2 separate regions of the Homo sapiens genome follow, and region 2 is linked to region 1. The links come from fine-mapping of genetic effects on gene expression. Tissue or cell type: whole blood. Region 1 holds a variant in brackets; the other region holds the start of a gene. All regions are shown on one strand. Distances are between the middles of the regions.

What was found. PIP is the estimated chance that this variant, and not a neighbour inherited with it, causes the effect.
Region 2: RESF1 starts here. The variant in region 1 is fine-mapped to the expression of RESF1 in whole blood (INTERVAL, PIP 0.91).

What each region holds. Positions count from the first base shown.
Region 1 is chr12:31,916,521-31,927,826 of GRCh38, forward strand. No RefSeq gene overlaps it. Among named protein-coding and RNA genes, the nearest start is that of LINC02422, 35 kb to the left of the region's middle. The variant C/T (reference allele first, on the strand shown) is at 5,699.
Region 2 is chr12:31,953,384-31,961,535 of GRCh38, forward strand. RESF1 (retroelement silencing factor 1) reads left to right here and starts at 6,032. Exons shown (of 6, transcript NM_018169.4): 1 at 6,032-6,108; 2 at 7,394-7,488. It overlaps LOC105369725 (a long non-coding RNA gene), which reads right to left and starts at 5,921. Exons shown (of 2, transcript XR_931503.2): 1 at 5,745-5,921; 2 at 5,110-5,421. It also overlaps the pseudogene LOC100132543. RefSeq lists enhancers at 3,654-4,153, 4,157-4,950 and a silencer at 6,003-6,342.

The DNA of each region.
Region 1 (11,306 bases):
TGCTTCAGGTACTGTTGGTTATTGTTCTTTAGTTTCCAAAGATGGTCTTTATTTCCCTTGTCGCTCTCTTTTTGTAGGGCTTCTCATAAGGAGGAAAAATCATAAGATTCTCCTTTCATCCTGCTTAATTTCTTGAGAAGCTTGGCTTTGTCACCAGCAAATTTATTCTCCAGTCTCTACCACCTCAGAGAGCGTACATTGTTGAGCTTATGTCAGATGGCCAGCTGTGAGTCCAGCCGGGGGTCTGAAATGTCTGTTTTTTCAAATGTGTCATCTCTCAGGGAAATTTGTCTTAATTGTCTCAACCTTCATTGCCTTGATAATGAGGGTCTTTACTTTCTTAGGCTATCTTCAGAAGAAATTTCAGATCTTGAGGGGAACTGCATACTTGCACCCTCTTCAGGCATAATTTATGCATCTGATTATATACCATAAAAAGGCTTACAGGTTTTGAGTCCCAGTTAGAGGTATACCTTTGGAAATTTATTTTGTTTTGTTTTGTTTGAGACAAGCTGCAGAGGTTGCAGTGGCACAATTACAGCTCACTGTAGTCTCGACATTCCAGGCTCAAGTGATTCTCCCACCTCAGCCTCCCAAGTAGCAGAGACTTATACATGCATGTGCCACCATGCCTGGCTAAATTTTTAAAAAAAATTTTTGTAGAGATGGCTTTCTCACTATATTCCCCATACTGGTTTCAGACTCCTGGACTCAGAGATCCTCCAGCCTTGGCCTCCCAAAGTGCTAGGACTATAGGCATGAACCAATGCACCTGGCCAACCTTTGGAAATTTGGACTGTTAACGGCTAAAACTTTTTTTTCTGGAGAGTTCTCCTTTAACACCCGCAGAAAATTCTTTAAATGTTCAAATTGCCTGCTCAACTTTGCTGCAGGATTTACTAAAGTCACTCCAGCATTTTCCAGGCCTTTCTCAGTCCTTTGGAGATGTAAACCTTACCATGTTTTTGAAATGTTAGCATTTAGGGAATTAGCTAAGCAGCATTCCAGCGAGATTGGATTTGAAACAGAGCTAAAGTTCTCCGGACCAACCAAAAAATTCCTTTCCTCAGGGGATGTCTTTAGCTCAGGGGAGAAACATTTATAAGAATTAGCTTGGTTAATTGTTTTGAATTTTTGGTGTGACTCTTGAGGTTTTGGGGTGCCCATTTGTAATTCTTTCCACCCCCATGGGCAGCTTTTGTTTTCCTCTTTTAGTGACTGTCTCTTCTCATTGTCTGTCTGCTGGGCACACAAGGGAAGGTCTGCCTTTGTGGAAGGTCTGGCAGACACTGGGCTGAAAAGCTGAGGCCATAGAGAATATGGTGAACAAATGTGGGGTTGCACCCCAATTGTTGCTAGGGAAGCTTTCTCTAAGCTGTCCTTGGGAGGGTCTGGATCCTGTAAGGGCTGCTAACTTTTGCTCCCTCTTTGGGAAACTTGATTAAAGCCAAGTTTTAATGAAGGGCTTGGTTTAAAAGGGCTTCTTGGTTTGGGTCTCCTGTGTGTTTATTTGTGTTGGTTTTCTCATTTGTTCAGGTATACCTTTGATTTTAAACATCGGTTTATATTTTAAATATAAAATATTTATATAGTTTATATTTAAATTTATGAAATTTATAAATTTATGAAAACTTTTTGTTCCTTTGTTTGTTCAGCCTTCTCTCCTGAGCTAAATGGAACCACATACTCAACAAGTTTATTAAAACATTTCAAAGACAACAGCTTTAAATAGTGATTATTCTAGTGCTGGGCATGGTGGCTCACGCCTGTAATCCCAGCACTTTGGGAGGCTGAGGCGAGCGGATCACTTGAGGCCTGGAGTTTGAGACCAGCCTGGCCAACATAGTGAAATCCTGTCTCTACTAAAAGCACAAAAATTACCCAGGCATGGTGGCACGCGCCTGTAGTCCCAGCTATTCAGGAGGCTGAGACATGAGAATCACTTGAGCCTGGGAGGTGGAGGTTGCAGTGATCTGAGACCGAGCCACTGCACTCCAGCCTGGGTGACAGAGTTGTCTCGGGAAAAACAAACAAATAAATAAAATAGTGATTATTCTAGACCTCTAATAGGCAAATATACCCCCACCCCTGCAAAAACAAACAAACAAAAAACAACAAAAACAAAAAGCTTCTTCTTGGTGCAAATTTCAGAAATGAAGCCAAGAAATAGGAATGTTTGCTATTTGTCCATCTAAAATCTGGTCAAAAGATTTTTTTTAAGAGCTCTACAGTCAAAATCGACTTTTGACTTTTGACTTTTTAGAGCATGAGAATCCCTTGAACTTGGGAGGCAGAGGTTGCCATGAACCGAGATCGTGCCCCTGCACTCCAGCCTGGGTGACAGAGTGAGACTCTGTCTCAAATAACCAAACAAACAGAGCCAAAAGTATATAAGCTTAAACTCGAATTTAGTAATTAATGTCTTAGCATTATATCTTATTTGGAAATGACCTAGATATTCAATGACTATCCATAATTTAATTTAGCTTAGCAAAATTCTAAAGGTAACCATTTTTTATTACTGTATGTTAGGTAAATATCATAAAAGTAAGAAACTTAAAGTTAAATACATGCATGTTTTGCTGACAACTCAGGAGACATAATTGTTTTTATTAAACCAACAATATTAAACTAGCCTTGTCTACCAAAAGATTTACTAAAGTCACATAAACTTAAAAAATATTTCAACTTATTTATGAGCACTCATTTATTTTTAAGTTAATTTGGTACCATGTAGACAATACACAAACATATGTATAGACATATAAATACATGTAGATACAACATATATCATACACATGTATGTGTCTATTTGGCTTTGTTTCTTTGTTTGGGACATGGTCTCGCTATGCTGTCCAGGATGGCCTCAAACTCCTGAGTTCAAATGATCTTTCTGCCTCAGCGACCTGAGTACCTGGGATTATAGCCATGTGCCACTATGCCCAACTCACATGTATGTATCTAAAAGCCAAAAGGATCAAGGTTAAATATGAAAAAGAGTAGAGAGTTAGACCTGAGAGGAACCTATCCACCCACAGCTCTTGGGGCTCTACGAGGAAAACAGTGATCCTCCCACCCCCAGAAAAGGAATATGTGGCCTTCAAGGGGTCCTCAAGGAGACCCAGGACTGTTATAAGTCTTCGTTACCAGCTGGGCTCAGTGGCTCATGCCTATAATCCCAGCACTTTGGGAGGCTGAGGTGAGAGTATTGCTTGAGGCCAGGAGTTCAAGACCAGCCTAGGCAACACAGCGAGACCCTCTTTCTACAAACAATTAACAAAAATTCAATAATATTAAACAAAAATAATAAAACATAGTTGTTAGTTGCCCTCATGTGGTAGCAAAGGTGGCAAGAGGAAGGAGGGATATAAATGGAAGAACAAGTCTTAGAGGAGCCAGTTTGAGGTCTTGTTCCCAAAAAGCCAAATAAATTTTACATTATCCTTGGCAAAATTAATGTCAACAAGAAAAAAAGCAGAGAGGTGGAGCACATATAGTCAGCTGGAGTTTAAGAGGAGAGGAATTCAGGCTGGGTGAGATGGCCCACACTTTGGGAGAACAAGGTAGGAGGATTGCTTGAGGCCAGGAGTTCAAGACCAGCATGGGCAACATAGTGAGACGAAGTCTCTACAAATATATATTTTTTTGATTAGCCAGCATGGCAGCATGCATTTATAATCCCAGCTATCTGGAGGCTGAGGCAAGAGGATCCCTCGAGCCCCAGAGTTCGAGGCTGTAGTGAACTATGATTACACCACTGCACTCCAGCCTGGGTGATAGAGTGAGACCCTCTCTCTCTCAAAAAAAAAAAAAAAAAAAAGATTTATATGTATTATATATGTATAAATACATAGCCTAAATATCAACTTTTACTTAAATTATACAGGAGGTATTTCATTGTCAAATAAGAAATAACGTTTTACCTTCTTGAAGTTGTATTTGTATAAATGCATTTTTAATATGTGTTCCAAAATTGTATAAAATTTCTAAAAAGATCTGATATATCTTGGTATGTGTTATCAGTCATAATTCTAATTATTGTGTTAAATTGTTGACACCACAGAAATAACCATACTTCCTTATCAGTTCCATCATTAATCATGACTATTCTCTTTTGTCATCCACAGGCAATTGTTATTTTACCTTGTTTTTTTTTTTTTTTTTTTTTTTTTGAGGCTGAGTCTCACTCTGTCGCCCAGGCTGGAGTGCAGTGGCACGATCTCAGCTGACTGCAAGCGCTCCGCCTCCCGGGTTCATGCCGTTCTCCTGCCTCAGCCTCCCAAGTAGCTGGGATTACAGGTGCCTGCCACCACGCCTGGCGAATTTTTTGTATTTTTAGTAGAGACTGGGTTCCACCATTTTGGCCAGGCTGGTCTTAAACTCCTGACCTCGTGATCCACCCGCCTTGGCCTCCCAAAGTGCTGGGACTACAGGCGTGAGCCACTGCACCTGGCCTACCTTGATCTTGATTCTCTTCAAAAGGTGGTTTATAATCAGCTACAGTCTAAAATTTGCTTTTTTTTTTTTTCTTTGGAGACAGGGTCTCACTCTGTCACCACTCAGGCTGGAATGCAGTGGTGTGATCATAGCTCACTGCAGCCTTGAACTCCTGGGCTCAGGTGATCCTCCCACCTCAGCCTCCCAAGTAACTAGGACCACAGGCGCATGCCACCATGGCTGGCTAATTTATTTTTATTTTTTTGTAGAAATGAGGTCTCACTATGTTGTTCAGGCTGCTCTGGAACTCCTGGGCTCAAGTGATCTGCCCGCTTTGACCTTGCAAAGTACTAGGATTACAGGCATAAAACACGACATGCAGCCCCAAATTTGCTGCTTCTTCAAGGAAATTCATGAAAAAAAACCATAACAAGCATTCTTGAATACAGATTTTTTATAATTTTTGAGATCATACCATTGGACTAGGTAAAAACTTCCAGAACTCTGATGAGTAAACTAAAGTGTTCATGAAGATTCCTAATCCGACATCAAGAAAAACAAGAATTAATTACATGGGACTCAACTGATGAAGAATTGAAATTTTTTATGAGTTCTTTTTATCTGAAGCATTCCACATTCTTTATATTTTGTTCTTCAGAGTCAAGGAAAATTTTATTCTTCTTTAAGCTATTTATAGCTTAGATCAATTGGGTAAAGTAGACTTTTGTGAGCAGAATTGAAACATTTGCATTTCTGTCTACCTGGTCCCTTCAGAATTTGGAAACCATTTGTGATTAATCTTCTTTTATGGCAATATAGTCATTTGCATAAGTTCAGTAACAATTTGCTGTCTTTGTAGGAAGAGACATTAGACCCAACAAAACTCCTTAGAATCCCTAGCATGTGAAAGATTAGATAATAGAAGAGTTTCAGATTATTTACTCAGTGCTCAAGGAGGAGTCTGCTATATCCAACACCTCTGGTTCTGCTTGGGTAAATAAAAAATTCAAGGCTGGGTGCTGTGGCTCACACTTCTAATCCCGGCACTTTGGGAGGCCAAGGCAGGCAGGAGTTCAAGACCAGCCTGGGCAACATGGTGAAACTCCATCCCTAATAAAACTACAAAAATTAGCCAGGTGTGGTGGTACACACCTGTAGTCCCACCTACTAGGGGGTGCTGAGGTTGGAGGATCACTTGAGCCTGGGACGTTGAGGCTGCGGTGAGCTGAGATCCCACCACTGCACTCCAGCCTGGTGACGA[C/T]GTGATAGCCTGTCTCAAAAAATAATAATAATAAAAAAATTCAGGTAGTACTGGAAACCTCGAAGATTCCAAGATTAGTCAGATCCTTAAAAGGTATACCTTCTGGTAGTCTTTTTAATTGGGTTAATCTTGAATTTTCTGATCTTTTTTGTTTGCTTCCTACAGTTATTGGAAATATTTTAAGATCTGGGTTCCAACTTATCCTGTTATTCTTGTTTGTGACCCTAGTCATGTTTATCCTCGTTAAACTATATTCTTGTTAAATGGCTTTGAGGTAGTCTTGTTGCCTGAGGTATTACCTGGAGCTCTTTGTCTCATGACCAAGAAGAGTAAGGAATGTGGACACCAAGGGTGAGTTTAGAGCAAAAGTTTAATAAGTGAAAGAGGAAAGCTCTCCACTGCAGAGAGGGGACCTGAGAGGGTTGCCATTTCACAATTGAGTACAAAGGCTGTTATGAGGAACCCAGAGGAACCAGATGGGTCTGGGCATTTCATTTGCATAACTGAAATTGCATAAGTTGTGAATTTCTGGTAGCTCCACCCTGTACCCCTAGTGTGCTGGCTGACTGGTGGTTGTCTTTAGAAAAGGCACCACTTAGAAAATGGCATGATGGTGTAAAGGACCAACTGGAGCCTTGGCTCACAACCAGCCTAGTGTTGGAGTGATGATTCATAGAGGTTTGGCTCACAGTCCAAAGTATGCCCAAAAAAGGAAAGGAATGTACTCACCACAGCCCACCATCTACATGCCCACAAAAGGAAAAGAAACTATTTCCTGGAAGGCTGCTGCTTACACAAAGAACAAAGGTGCTTCTATGTTGGGCCTTGCTTCCTTATCTGTGCAGCTATGGGTATATCCTAGGCAAGCTGCCTGTGCTAGTTCCCTTATCTGTATCTGTAGCCTGAGTTTTCAGGTTGTTCCTTTGTTTGAAAGAATTCTACTGAGCACCTGCCCTAACCGCCTTCCTAGCTGGTTCTTTCTTTTCTCCTCTCTCAGCTTGATGCCACACTGTTGCTGTCAACGAAACTAAAATTATGGTGGCTCAACACATTGAACTGACAGATTAGGCCTACAATCATGAATCCTACCCTAACCACATATGTGCACCACAATTGGGGCCCACATCCTCAACTCCTCCTTGTTGCTCAAATTTGGACTATTCCATTTGACACAGATCATCCACTATCATTACCATGACTCCCTCCTCCATGGGACATGACTTCCTGGGACAAATCTATTCCAGAACCAAAGGGCTTACTGAAATAATTGATCTCAGTGGTTTCTAAGGAAATATTTAAATCAAAAGGGGAAAATCTGAAAAGAAATCCAAAATGGAGATGATTATGCCAGAGGTCTCTAAAAAGGAGCCAGGAGGGCATAAGGAGTTGGACCCCCATCACCCATATACTCAGATGAAATTTGACATGTTCAAATTGGACCAAATCACAAACATCCTAAAGAAGCAGCTGAATTTGATGTGAACTGTTTACACTGGGCCTGATCACAAATCTCCTGAGAAGACAGCTGTGCCAAATTAGGTCGTTCATCACCAAGAGACATCTAAGCTGTCAATCAGCCATTGTCAATCATAGACTGTGCTAAAATTTTCCACTTGTATAAACTTGCCAGGAACCTTTATAAGCCCCTGCCCAGCTTGTCTGTATGGAATATGATTTAGCTGCTTGCTCGATTTGTGTCTCTCAAATTGCAATTTATAAAAGATCTCAATTAAAATACCTTCTCTCATATGCTTGTCTGCAGTGTTGGTTTTACTTCTTATTAGTTGCCAATAGATAAAAAATGGACATGCACAAAAATTGATTCTATATTTATCTAGGATGAATTGTTCAATAAATAGTATTGTGACAACTGAGTAGCCAGCTGGAAAACGAGAGTTGAACTCCTACAGCTTACCTTCCATTACAGTTAATTCTAGGTGGCTCAAAGATGTAAACATTTTGCAAAGTTGTAAATCCATAATGAAAACCAGGAAAAGATGTACATCCTCTTCCCAAGCATGCTAAAGTCTTAAGCAGGCATTACATAAAATAGGAATTACAAATAGCAAACAGTTAAAGCTGTTATCCCCCATAGTGAAGAGGAAAGCCACAAAGTTATCTGTGTTATCCACCAGAATGACTGAGTTTATTTTATTTATTTATTTATTTATTTTATTTTTTTGAGACGGAGTCTCACTCTGTCGCCCAGGCTGGAGTGCAGTGGCGTGACCTCAGCTCACTGCAAGCTCCACCTTCCGGGTTCACGCCATTCTCCTGCCTCAGCCTCCTGAGTAGCTGGGACTACAAGCACCCGCCACCACGCCCGGCTAATTTTTTGTGTTTTTAGTAGCTGGGATTACAGTTGCCCACTATCATGCCTGGCTAAGTTTTTTTTTTTTTTTTTTGAGACAGAGTTTTGCTCTTGTTGCCTGGGCTGGAGTACAATGGCATGATCTCAGCTCACTGCAACCTCTGCAAAATACAAAAATTAGCTGGGTATGGTGGCATGCACCTGTAGTCCCAGCTACTCGGGAGGCTAAGGCAGGAGAATCGCTTGAACCTGGGAGGCAGAAGTTGCAATGAGCCAAGATCACACCACTGCACTCCAGCCTGGCGACAGAGCGAGACTCCGTCTTAAAAAAAAAAAATATATATATATATATATATATATATATATATATTTTTTTTAAGAATGTCCATTTCACCTTTGCAAAAGCCAAAAGATAGAAACAACTCAAATATGATCTATAGAATATCCATATAGTGATACCCAAGAAGCTAGAATATTAGTTGCCTTTGGAGAAGCAAACTGGATGGCTGAGATGCAGAATTGGGAGTGTGATTAATTTTTCCTTTTATTCTTTTGACCATGCCTAGATTCTACCAGTTAAAAATAATATAAATTATTAATAAAAACATGAAGAGTTGATTAACATACATCACATATTTTGAGTACAGGGATAAATATGGGAGACATGCTGTCCCAGATATCAAAATATAAAGCTATCAAAACATTGTTGGCCAGGCGTGGTGGCACATGCCTACAATACCAGCACTTTGGGAGGTTGGGGGAGGAGACTGGCTTGAGCCCAGGATTGTGAGACCAGCCTGGGCAACATAGTGAGACTCTGTCTCAAAAAAAGAAGAAAAAATAACATTGTCATATTTAAGCAGGGACAAATTGGCCACTGAAAAAGAATAAGGTCCAGAAATAGACTCAAGTGCATATGTATACTATATAGCAACCTAAAGTTTCCTTTCAAATTGTGGGGAAAGATGAACTATTCAACAGGTGCTGTTTTGTTTGTTTTCAAGAAAAATAAAAATCCTTACATCATATCAAATAATAAATACTTTTGGTGGCAGGGCAGGGGGGATTTAAAAATTTTAAGCCAAATAAAGATATAAAGCTAACAGAAAAAAAATTTTAGAAAATACTTTCATAACTTCCAAGTGAGAAGGTATGTGTGTATAAATATATACCTTAAATATGTATACTCTATGTATATTTAAAGAAAATGTATACCAATTCTGTAAAGAGGTAAATGATAATTGCTTGATTTTTTTTTTTTTTTTTTTTTTTGAGATAGAGTCTCACTCTGTCGCCCAGGCTAGAGTACAGTGGCGCGATCTCAGCTCACTGCAAACTCCGCCTCCCGGGTTCATGCCATTCTCCTGCCTCAGCTTCCCGAGTAGCTGGGACTACAGGTGCCTGCCACCACGCCCAGCTAATTTTTTGTATTTTTAGTAGAGACAGGGTTTCATGGTGTTAGCCAGGATGATCTCGATCTCCTGACCTCGAGATCCACCTGCCTCGGCCTCCCAAAGTGCTGGGATTACAGGCGTGAGCCACCGCGCCCAGCCAATTGCTTGATTTTTGATACCATGCCAGATCATTTTCCAAGTCCACTTGCCCGAATGTCACACTCGTAAGAAATGATAAGTATCCATGTGGGATTGGTTCTAGGATCCACCCTCAGTTACCAAAATCCACGGATGCTTAAGTCTCTTATGTAAAATTACATAGTATTTGCATATGACCTACTCACATCCTCCTACACACTTTAAATCATCTCTAGATTACTTATAATACATAATACAATGTAAATGCTATGTAAATAGTTGTAATTCTGTATTGTTTAGGGACTAGTGACAAGAAAAAATAGTCTGTACATGTTCAGTACAGAAGCAATCTTTTTTTTTTTTAAGAGACAGGGTCAGGCGTGTATACAGGCGGCACATGTTAATAAACTGTTTCGGCCAGGCACGGTGGATCATGCCTGTAATCCCAGCACTTTGGGAGGCCGAGGTGGGCAGATCACGGGGTCAGGAGATTAAGACCATCCTGACTAACACGGTGAAACCCCGTCTCTACTAAAAATACAAAAAATTAGCCGGGCGTGGTAGCAGGCGCCTGTAGTCTCAGCTACCGGGAGGCTGAGGCAGGAGAACGGCGTGAACCCGGGAGGCGGAGCTTGCAGTGAGCCGAGATCGCACCACTGCACTCCAGCCTGGGCCACAGTGCGAGACTCCATCTGAAAAAAAAAAAAAAAAAAAAGACGGGGTCTCAGTCTGTTGCCCAGGCTGGAGTGCAGTGGCACAATCATAGCTCACTGCAGCCTCAAACTCCTGGGCTCAAGCAATCCTCCCACCTCAGCCTTCTGAGTAGCTGGAACTCCACACCACTGTGCTAGGCCTCTTTTTTTGTTTTGTTTTTGGTTTTTTTGAGACAGTTTTGCTCTTGTTGCCCAGGCAGGAGTGCAGTAGCACAATCTCGGCTCACTGCAACCTCTGCCTCCCAGGTTCAAGTGATTCTTCTGCCTCAGCCTCCCGAGTAGCTGGGACTACAGGCGAGTGCCACCACGCCCGACTAATTTTTGTATTTTTAGTAGAGACAGGGTTTCACCATATTGGCCAGTCTGGTCTCGAACTCCTGACCTCGTGATCCACCCACCTCGGCCTCCCAAAATGCTGGGATTACAGGCGTGAGCCACTGCACCCCGCCAATTTTTTGTATTTTCAGTAGAGACAGGGTTTCCCCATGTTGGTCAGGCTGGTCTCGAACTCCCGACCTCAGGTGATCTGCCCGCCTCAGCCTCCCGAAGTGCTGGGATCACAGGCATGAGCCACCTCGCCTAGCCTGTTTTTTGTTTTTTTGAGACAGGGTCTTGCTCTGTCACCCAGGCTGGAGTGCAGTTTTGCAGTGGCATGATCCCGGCTCACTGCAGCCTTAACTGCTCAGGCTCAAGCGACCCTCCCACCACAACCTCCCAAGTAGCTGTGTCCCACAGGCACACACCACAGTGCCTGGCTAATTTTTTTATTTTCTGTAGACATGGAGTCTCCCCATGTACTCAGGCTGGTCTCAATCTCCTGGGCTCAAATGATCCTCCCCCATCTTGTTCTCCCAAAGTTCTGGGATCACAGGCGTGAGCCACCGCCCCCAACTACTTTTTTAAAAATATTTTGATCTGCAGTTGGTTGAATCCTCAAATGTAAAACCCACAAATATGAAGAGCCGACAAGAACCAACATCTGACGAAGGTACAGAAAAACTACTGCACTACTGCTCTATAAGATTAGAAATTAATCTGTAAACATTGATACA
Region 2 (8,152 bases), 35 kb after region 1:
CTTTTGGAAAAATCAGACAACCTTTACTTACCTAGCAGAGAGAGGATAAAATCAGCACAAGTACAGACAAGGATACATGGCAGAGAGATCAGCTACTTTATCCCAAATGCTTCCCAGACATTAAATCCTAACGGACACTAAGCCCTCCTTAGGCTGTATAGGAGTGGGGTCCCTATCAGAATTTCCGGCAACAAAAGTCCCTCTCCTTGGGTTTGTTTTTACTTGCTGACCTGCGTGGCTAGGTGCTAGAAAATCCCTTATCTGAGCCAAGTGTGTCCAGCTATGTTCCAGGAACTGCTCCTAGTGAGGTATATGTACTAATTCATGTAACTATCTCAAAAATTAAATAAGGTAAGTATTATTGTTATCCCCATTTTTCAGAAGAGCGAAAAAACAAAAAAATGAAGTGATTTTCCCACAAAGTTCTATCACTAGGGAGCTGCAAAACAAGATTCAAACCTTGGGGCATACTTAAGAGCACTGAACAGGTTTGAGCCAAAGAGCCATTAGAGGGCCAGAGCCGGGTCCTGAACCAACAATAGACGGAGATGTGCTAGACACACTGGAGGTGCTGGGGTATAAGGGACCATTGCTAGAGGAGCAAGCCCTTATGAAGGCAGCAGAGTGGACTATATGTAGGAGCATATACGGTATAGGATTATATATATAGGCTTTTATACAGGAAGAAGGTGGTATATACTGTAAAGGAATAGATATATAAACTATATAAATTCCTATACAGGATATGGTTAGGCTTTCAAATAAAATCATTATGCAACTTGGAAGAAAGTATGACTTCTGCTGGAAGAGATGATCTAGAGAGCTTCCAGCTTGAGGTAAATGATTTTTTTAAAAGAAATGGCATGTCCATATTCTGTACTCATATCAGGAGATACTAAAGATCATTTTAAAAAAGGAGGACTGGCTGGGTACAATGGCTCACACCTGTTATCCCAGCACTTTGGGAGACCAAGGTGGACAGATTGCTTGAGTCCCAGGAGTTCAAGGCCAGCCTGGGCAACATGGTGAACCCCATCTCTACAAAAAATACAAAAATCAGCTGGGTGTAGTGGTGCATGCATGTTGTTCCAACTACTTGGGGGCCTGAGGTGGAAGAATTGCTTAAGTCAAGGAGGTCAAGCCCACAGTGAGCTGAGATCGCGCCACTGTAAATAAAAAAATATAAAAAGGACTGTTTGAAACTCCTATTATTTTTAAGTACAGAACTTGAAGCTTCACAGATATTACAGAACAAGAAACATTAAAATTCTCAATTAGATAAAAATAATGAAATTTATCAGGAAGTTCAAGTTCTGTGTGATAACCTTGGTGTACCCAAGTAAACAACTTCTGACATTCTGGTTATGCTAAACCAAGTGGAATCAAAGGTGAAAGACAGGCAGGACGCAGTGGCTCATGCCTATAATCCCAGCACTTTGTGAGGCAGAGATGGGAGGATCTCTTGAGCCCAGGAGTTGGAGACCAATTTGGGTGACATAGCAAGATCCCATCTTATTTCAAATTTTTAAAAATTGTTAATTTTTTTATTAAAATTAAAGAAAACCACTCTGCTGAAAATTAATTTAAATTTGAAACAGGCAGAACAACTGGAAAGAGTCAATGATGCTCTTTCCTGTGAACATGAGTGCCTCTAGCGAATGTTATGAAACAATTAGATGCGGCAATACAGTCCGTTGCACGGTGTGATACAGCCAAGGTAAGAAAAGATGACACAGCAAGAATTTACCAGCCTCAGTGTTATGCTTTGTCACCCAAGACAGCGATTATAATGGTGCATCTACTTGCTGCTCATGATAATCTATCCAAGATCATTAGGACAAGCAGTGGAGCCAGCCAGATGATGGCATGTGCCATTAATAAGGTGCTGATGGGAAGGGTGCCTGACAGGGGAGGCTGGCCAAATGAAATTGAACCACCACCCTCTGAAATGCCCCCTTGGCAAAAGAGACAAGAAGGCAGTGGCGGAAGGGGTGGTTGGGGTGGTGGTTGTGGAGGTAGAGGTGGTAGTAGAAGAGGCTGTGGGGGTGGAGGTGGAAGAGTTGGCTGGGGTAGAGGAGGATGGGAAAGTGGTGGGGGAGAGGGAGGAGGTGGGATGGAGGTGGTAAAGGAGGTTTCTAAGGCAGAGGAGATGATGGTGGGAGGGGAGATTATGGTGGAAAAGATTATGTAGATCCATATGGAGGAGGTGGTGATGGTGGTGGATATAGGAGATACTGAAGACTACAAAAATTAAAAACCAAAACCAACAAACCTCAAGCGCAAAGGAATAGTCTGCCCTCTTATGTCACAAGCACTAACTAACCACCTCTGCCCTTTCTCATCCCTTAATCATTCAGACAAGATTTCCTTGTTTACTTCCTCCTATAAAAACCCTAAGTCTATTTCATTTTCTTTGAAAAGATTCCTCTGCATTAATGGATGTTGTCCTTACTACAATAGCATGAAAAAAAAAAAAAGTCTCCTTAATGCAGCTTAGCAATTTTCCAGGCTTGATATCAGTGACTCCATCTTGGGCTATTGACTCCATGCTGAGCTGCTGCTAAACTTTGAGGCCCACGAAGAAACTGTGAAAAATATTTCCTTCACAAACAACTGTTATAAATAAAGTTTTGGTGTTGCAAAAGAAATAGCACTCGAATATAAATTTTCTTTTTAATTCTCAGCAAGGCAATGTACTTCTTTTTTTTTTTTTTTTGAGACAGAGTCTTGCTCTGTCGCCCAGGCTGGAGTGCGTGTCGCAATCTCGGCTCACTGCAAGCTCCGCCTCCCGGGTTCATGCCATTCTCCTGCCTCAGCCTCCGGAGTAGCTGGGACTACAGGCACCTGCCACCACGCCCAGCTAATTTTTTGTATTTTTTAGTGTTAGCCATGATGGTCTTGATCTCCTGACCTCATGATCCGCCTGCCTCGGCCTCCCAAAGTACTGGGATTACAGGCGTGAGCCACTGCGCCCGGCGGCAATGTACTTCTATAGACGGGTGCGCCCTCACAGATGGAGCAATGGTGAGCTCACACCTGGGCAAGGGAGGGGAAGGGGTTCTTATTCCTGATGCACGTGGCCTCTGCTGCTGTGTCGTTCCCCTGTTGGCTAGGGTTAGACCGCACAGGCTAAACTAATTCTGATTGGCTAATTTAAAGAGAGTGATGGGGTGAGCGGTTTGGCAGGAAAAATGGTTAAGGCGGGGCAGGAAATCGGAATGAGTCAGGGTGGAGCAGGTGATTGAAATGAGTCAGGGTGGAGCAGGTGATGGAAAAAGGTTGCTTTACGAGGAAGTTAAGTTTAAAAGTAAAAGGCAAAGATTGACCATACTGACATATTGATTCTTTGAAGAGAAATTTAGAATTCATATCTAACACAACCGTTTTTGCAACAACACACAACCCAAGAAAGCTGGTCTCAATATTATTATTATTATTATTATTATTTTCCGAGACAGGCTCTTACTCTGTCACCCAGGCCGGAGTTCAGTGGCTCAATCTTGGCTCACTGCAACCTCTGCCTCCCAAGCTCAAGTGATCCCCCCATCTCAGCCTCCCAAGTAGCTGGGACTACAGGCGCATGCCACCACTCCTGGCTAATTTTTTTTGTTTTTTGTATATTTTTTGTAGAGATTGGGTTCACCATGTTGGCAAGGCTGCTCTCTCAAACTCCTGGCCTCAAGTGATCCTCCCCAAAGTGCTGGGATTACAAGCATAAGCCACCACGCCTGATCCCCAATCTTTTTTTGTTTGTTTTGTTTCATGAGACAGACTCTTTCTGTGGCCCACGCTGGAGTGCAGTGGCGTGATCTCGGCTCACTGCAACCTCTGCTTCCTGGGTTTAAGCAATTCTCCCGCCTCAGCCTCCCGAGTAGCTGAGAATTACAGGTGCCCACAACCACGCCTGGCTAATTTTTATATTTTTAGTAGAAACAGGGTTTCACCATGTTGGTCACGTTGGTCTCAAACTCCTGATTTCAAGTGATTCACCCACCTCAGCCTCCCAAACTGTCAGGCCTCTGAGCCCAAGCTAAGCCATCATATCCCCTGTGACCTGCACGTATACATCCAGATGGCCTGAAGCAACTGAAGATCCACAAAAGAAGCGAAAATAGCCTTAACTGATGACATTCCACCATTGTGATTTGTTTCTGCCCCATCCTAACAGATCAATGTATTTTGTAATCTCCCCCACCCTTAAGAAGGTTCTTTGTAATTCTCCCCACCCTTAAGAAGGTTCTTTGTAATCTCCCCCACCCTTAAGAAGGTTCTTTGTAATTCTCCCCACCCTTGAGAATGTACTTTGTGAGATCCACCCCCTGCCCGCAAAACATTGTTCCGCGGAGCCTCTCCCAAAACCTATAAGAATTAAAGATAATCCCACCACCCTTTGCTGACTCTCTTTTCGGACTCAGCCCGCCTGCACCCAGGTGAAATAAACAGTCTTGTTGCTCACGCAAAGCTTGTTTGGTGGTCTCTTCACACGGATGCGCGTGACACAAAGTGCTGGGGTTACAGGCCTGAGCCACCACACCTGGCCACCCCCAATCTTTAAGAATATTCTGGCCGGGCGCGGTGGCTCATGCCTGTAATCCCAGCACTTTGGGAGGCTAAGGCGGGCGGATCAAGAGGTCAGGAGATCGAGACCATCCTGGCTAACATGGTGAAACCCCGTCTCTACTAAAATACAAAAAATTAGCCGGGCATGGTGGCGGGCGCCTGTAGTCCCAGCTACTTGGGAGGCTGAGGCAGCAGAATGGCGTGAACCTGGGAGGCGGAGCTTGCAGTGAGCCGAGATCGTGCCACTGCACTCCAGCCTGGGCGACAGAGCGTGACTCCGTCCCCCCCCCAAAAAAGAAAGAATATTCTGTATGTAGTTTTTTTGTTTTGTTTCTGACAGACGCAAACGCACTCTTCTAGTAATGACTAAAGACTTCTTCGTTTAATTCACCAATGAACTAATCTGACAATTTATGTAACAAATAAATTCCTATAAACATAAGCTCCCTTGCCCCTCTCCAGTGGCACAATCTCTGATTTGCCATCCTGGTTGCAACCTTCATTACTAAGTAAACGCTTACGTAAACCTTAATAATGAGATTCGGGCAATATGATTAAATATTGGTTTATTTGAGTGCAAAGTTTGAGGATGGCGACCCGGTAGGACACAGACTCCAAAAGATGGGGGTCAGTGCTTCGAAAGGGAGAAGTTTGAGGGTCGTTTACACAGGCAGGGTCTGGGAAGCTTAACAGGATGTCAACATTTTCCATAGAAGGTTAACGCATAGCAATTTGATTGGTTCAAGGCAGTGTTTCTTTTTGGGAAGGGTCTATTTAACATTCCACATTAAGGATGTAATAGTCAAGCGGTCATTTATCTTATTCAATGCGTATTTTATCTCAGATGCCATCTGGTCTGAGCTGGGAACAAGAAAATAAGGGAGTTAATCTATAACAAAAGGTCGGCAATTAAGAGGTCGTGCTTCGTGATCTGGTCTCCAAAGTCAACTTTCCTCAGGGACTTTCAGAATCCCCAAATAGACTATCCACTTTCTTTCACACTTATTTGCCTCTAACTTGTTGATTTCTTTTTTTTTTTTCTGTTTTTTAAGGGTTAACAATCTCTTGGGTGCACTCTGACTTCCATGCGCTTTATAGAAAAAATTGGTCCTGAGGCCAGCAGCAACAGTCGGTCTCAGGAACTTGTTAGAAATGCACATTTTTCAGCCCCACCCCAAACCTACTGAATCAGCAGTTTTGCTGGTGGTTCTCAATCTCTCTTTAACGTGCCCTCTGGGTGCTGCGGATGCACGCTGAAGGTAGAAGATCGCTGCAGGAGATTTCCGCGTCGGGCAGATGAAAGCGCTCTGCAAGCCCGGGTGTTATCTGCGGGCCGGGTCCGCGGCTTCTCTGGTGGCACTAGGACCGCGGCGGCGCGGCCCTCGCAGCCACCGCCTCGGGCGTGAGGCGGAGCGTAGCTGTTCCTGGATCCTGGGCCTGGCTCCTCGACCCGCCCCTGGAGGCGGACCCCACTTGACTTAAACTCTGGGGCCCGGGAGGCCGCCGGTTTTCTCCCCGCTTGCCGGGGTGGTCCTCTTCCCTTTGTCGGTAAGTGTGAGACGAGCACCCCGAGGTCCCTCCGCCTTCCGGGGTCCGGGCGGGGCGGGGGCCGGGAGCCGGGAGCCAGAGGCACTCGCGGTCCGGGCCTGCGCGCGGCGCAGAGCGCTTTTGTTCTGCGGCAAAGACGCAGTCGCGGGCGGCCCCGGAACCCGGGCCTCGGGCCCCGCCGGCTCGCGCGTCCCGCCGTCCGCCCACCGGAGCTGGGCCGGGCCGCCGCGCTTGCTTCTGCCCGCCGCACCGGGGCCGGCCCTGGGCCTCCGCGGATGCCGAGCCTTGCACCGGAGGGCGGGCCTCGCTGGCTGTTTTCCCTCATTGCCTGGCTCTGCGCGGTAGAGGTCGCGAGTGGCGAAGGCTAGGACGCATTTTGTCGAACTGCGAGGCGCGGCTGGTGAGGCGGGTGGGTATGAGAGCTGCTTATGTTTTTAAGGCTTTCCTGTCGCTGGAGTGAAAAAGAAAAATCTTTTTTTTTTTTTGCTATTTCCCGAGGGTTCTCCTCCTCCCCGGCCCTCTTAAGCCGAAGCCTCCTGGAACAGAATTGCTGTACTGGCATCTATCTCCAAGTGGTCCGCGAACGCTTCTGCGCCGGCGATGGTTTCTGTTCCTCAGCAATAGTTCCTTGAGGCATTTTTAAATGCACAAACGCATACCCATCTTAGGTGTTCTCGAGGGACACGGATTCCCTAAGCAAACGTCCTTAGGGTCCTGAGTTCAGCAGCAAACTTTCGGGGAATCATTTCCGTGAAAACAATTTATTTGTAGTACATCGAGTGCATACTGTCTTAACATAAGGATGTGTATGAGCTTGAGGCGCATTTTCATTTAGTGGCGGGCGGGTGCATTTCAGTAGGCGGGCCGCAGAGCTTGTTTGGGGATTGCATTTTTCTGCTAAATGTGTTAGCTTTAATCATGTTTCAGTCACTGTTAATGTGCATGCATGTTAAGGTTTTAGGTTTTTTCCCCTGTGCAGTCGGATTTTTTTCTGTTTAATATTAATCCAATAAAGACAAGTGCAGAGATAAAGTATTATTGTTTTGCAGTGATACTACAATAGCGGACCTAGAGGAGCGCACATAAATTCTAACTTAAGTGAATGGTATTTTCAGGCCAGACCTAGTTTCTATTTCTGTTACTTAGGACACTTAATAAGAATTCAGTAAACTTAGCATGCTTTCAGTGCAGCCATAAAAGAAAACAGTTTTGCACAGCAGTGTCATATCTAGTAAACACATTAGCATGTGCTCTTTTATTATAAAATGTTTCTTGCTGTCCCTAGGACCAAAGAAGTAAACACTGTGTGGAGAGGGACTGACGTGTTTGGAGGGAAATGGGAATGTACACGATAATTAAAGAGTAAAGTTGTGCTCAACGGTAAGTGTATCACCTCTAAGAAACCCGCCCTGATTTAACCAGGCGGTTATTCACACTCAACTATGGAGTAATTCACCTATTACCGAATAAAATTACTAGCTCAGTGAATCAACATCGGTTTTAAATTAAACTGTGGGTCACAATGGAATTGACAGCAAAGCTTGAGAAGAAATGTTGTTGGCATAGTACTGAAAAATCAGTTGTTAATCTTAGCAAAATAAGGAAAGAGGTCTTTGGTAAGGGAATTGTGGTGGAAGTTACCTGGGCAGAGGTCTGCTTCTGTCTGTGCTGTGTTTATTTGATTGTTTTTATTATATTTTATTACTGTTGGTGGCACATAGGGGAATGTGGCGCAGAGCACCACTCTGGGAGGATGCTTCCCGTGCAGCCAAAGTGATCATGTCCAGGGCTTTCATCTGTAACCACAAAGTGTGTTAGGAAGTCTCACCTAATGATTAAGACCATGGTCCCTGTAACCACACTGCTTTGGTTCAGATCTTGGCTGTAGCACTCAGCCAACCCTGGAAAATAAACCTCTGCCTGTTCTCTCATCTATAAAATGGGGACAAGCACTAATGTCATAGGATTGTTATGGTAGAGTTACATGAGTTTCATGCATATCACAGTTAAACAGCTCCTGATGCATGGCAAGTGCCCAATAAAT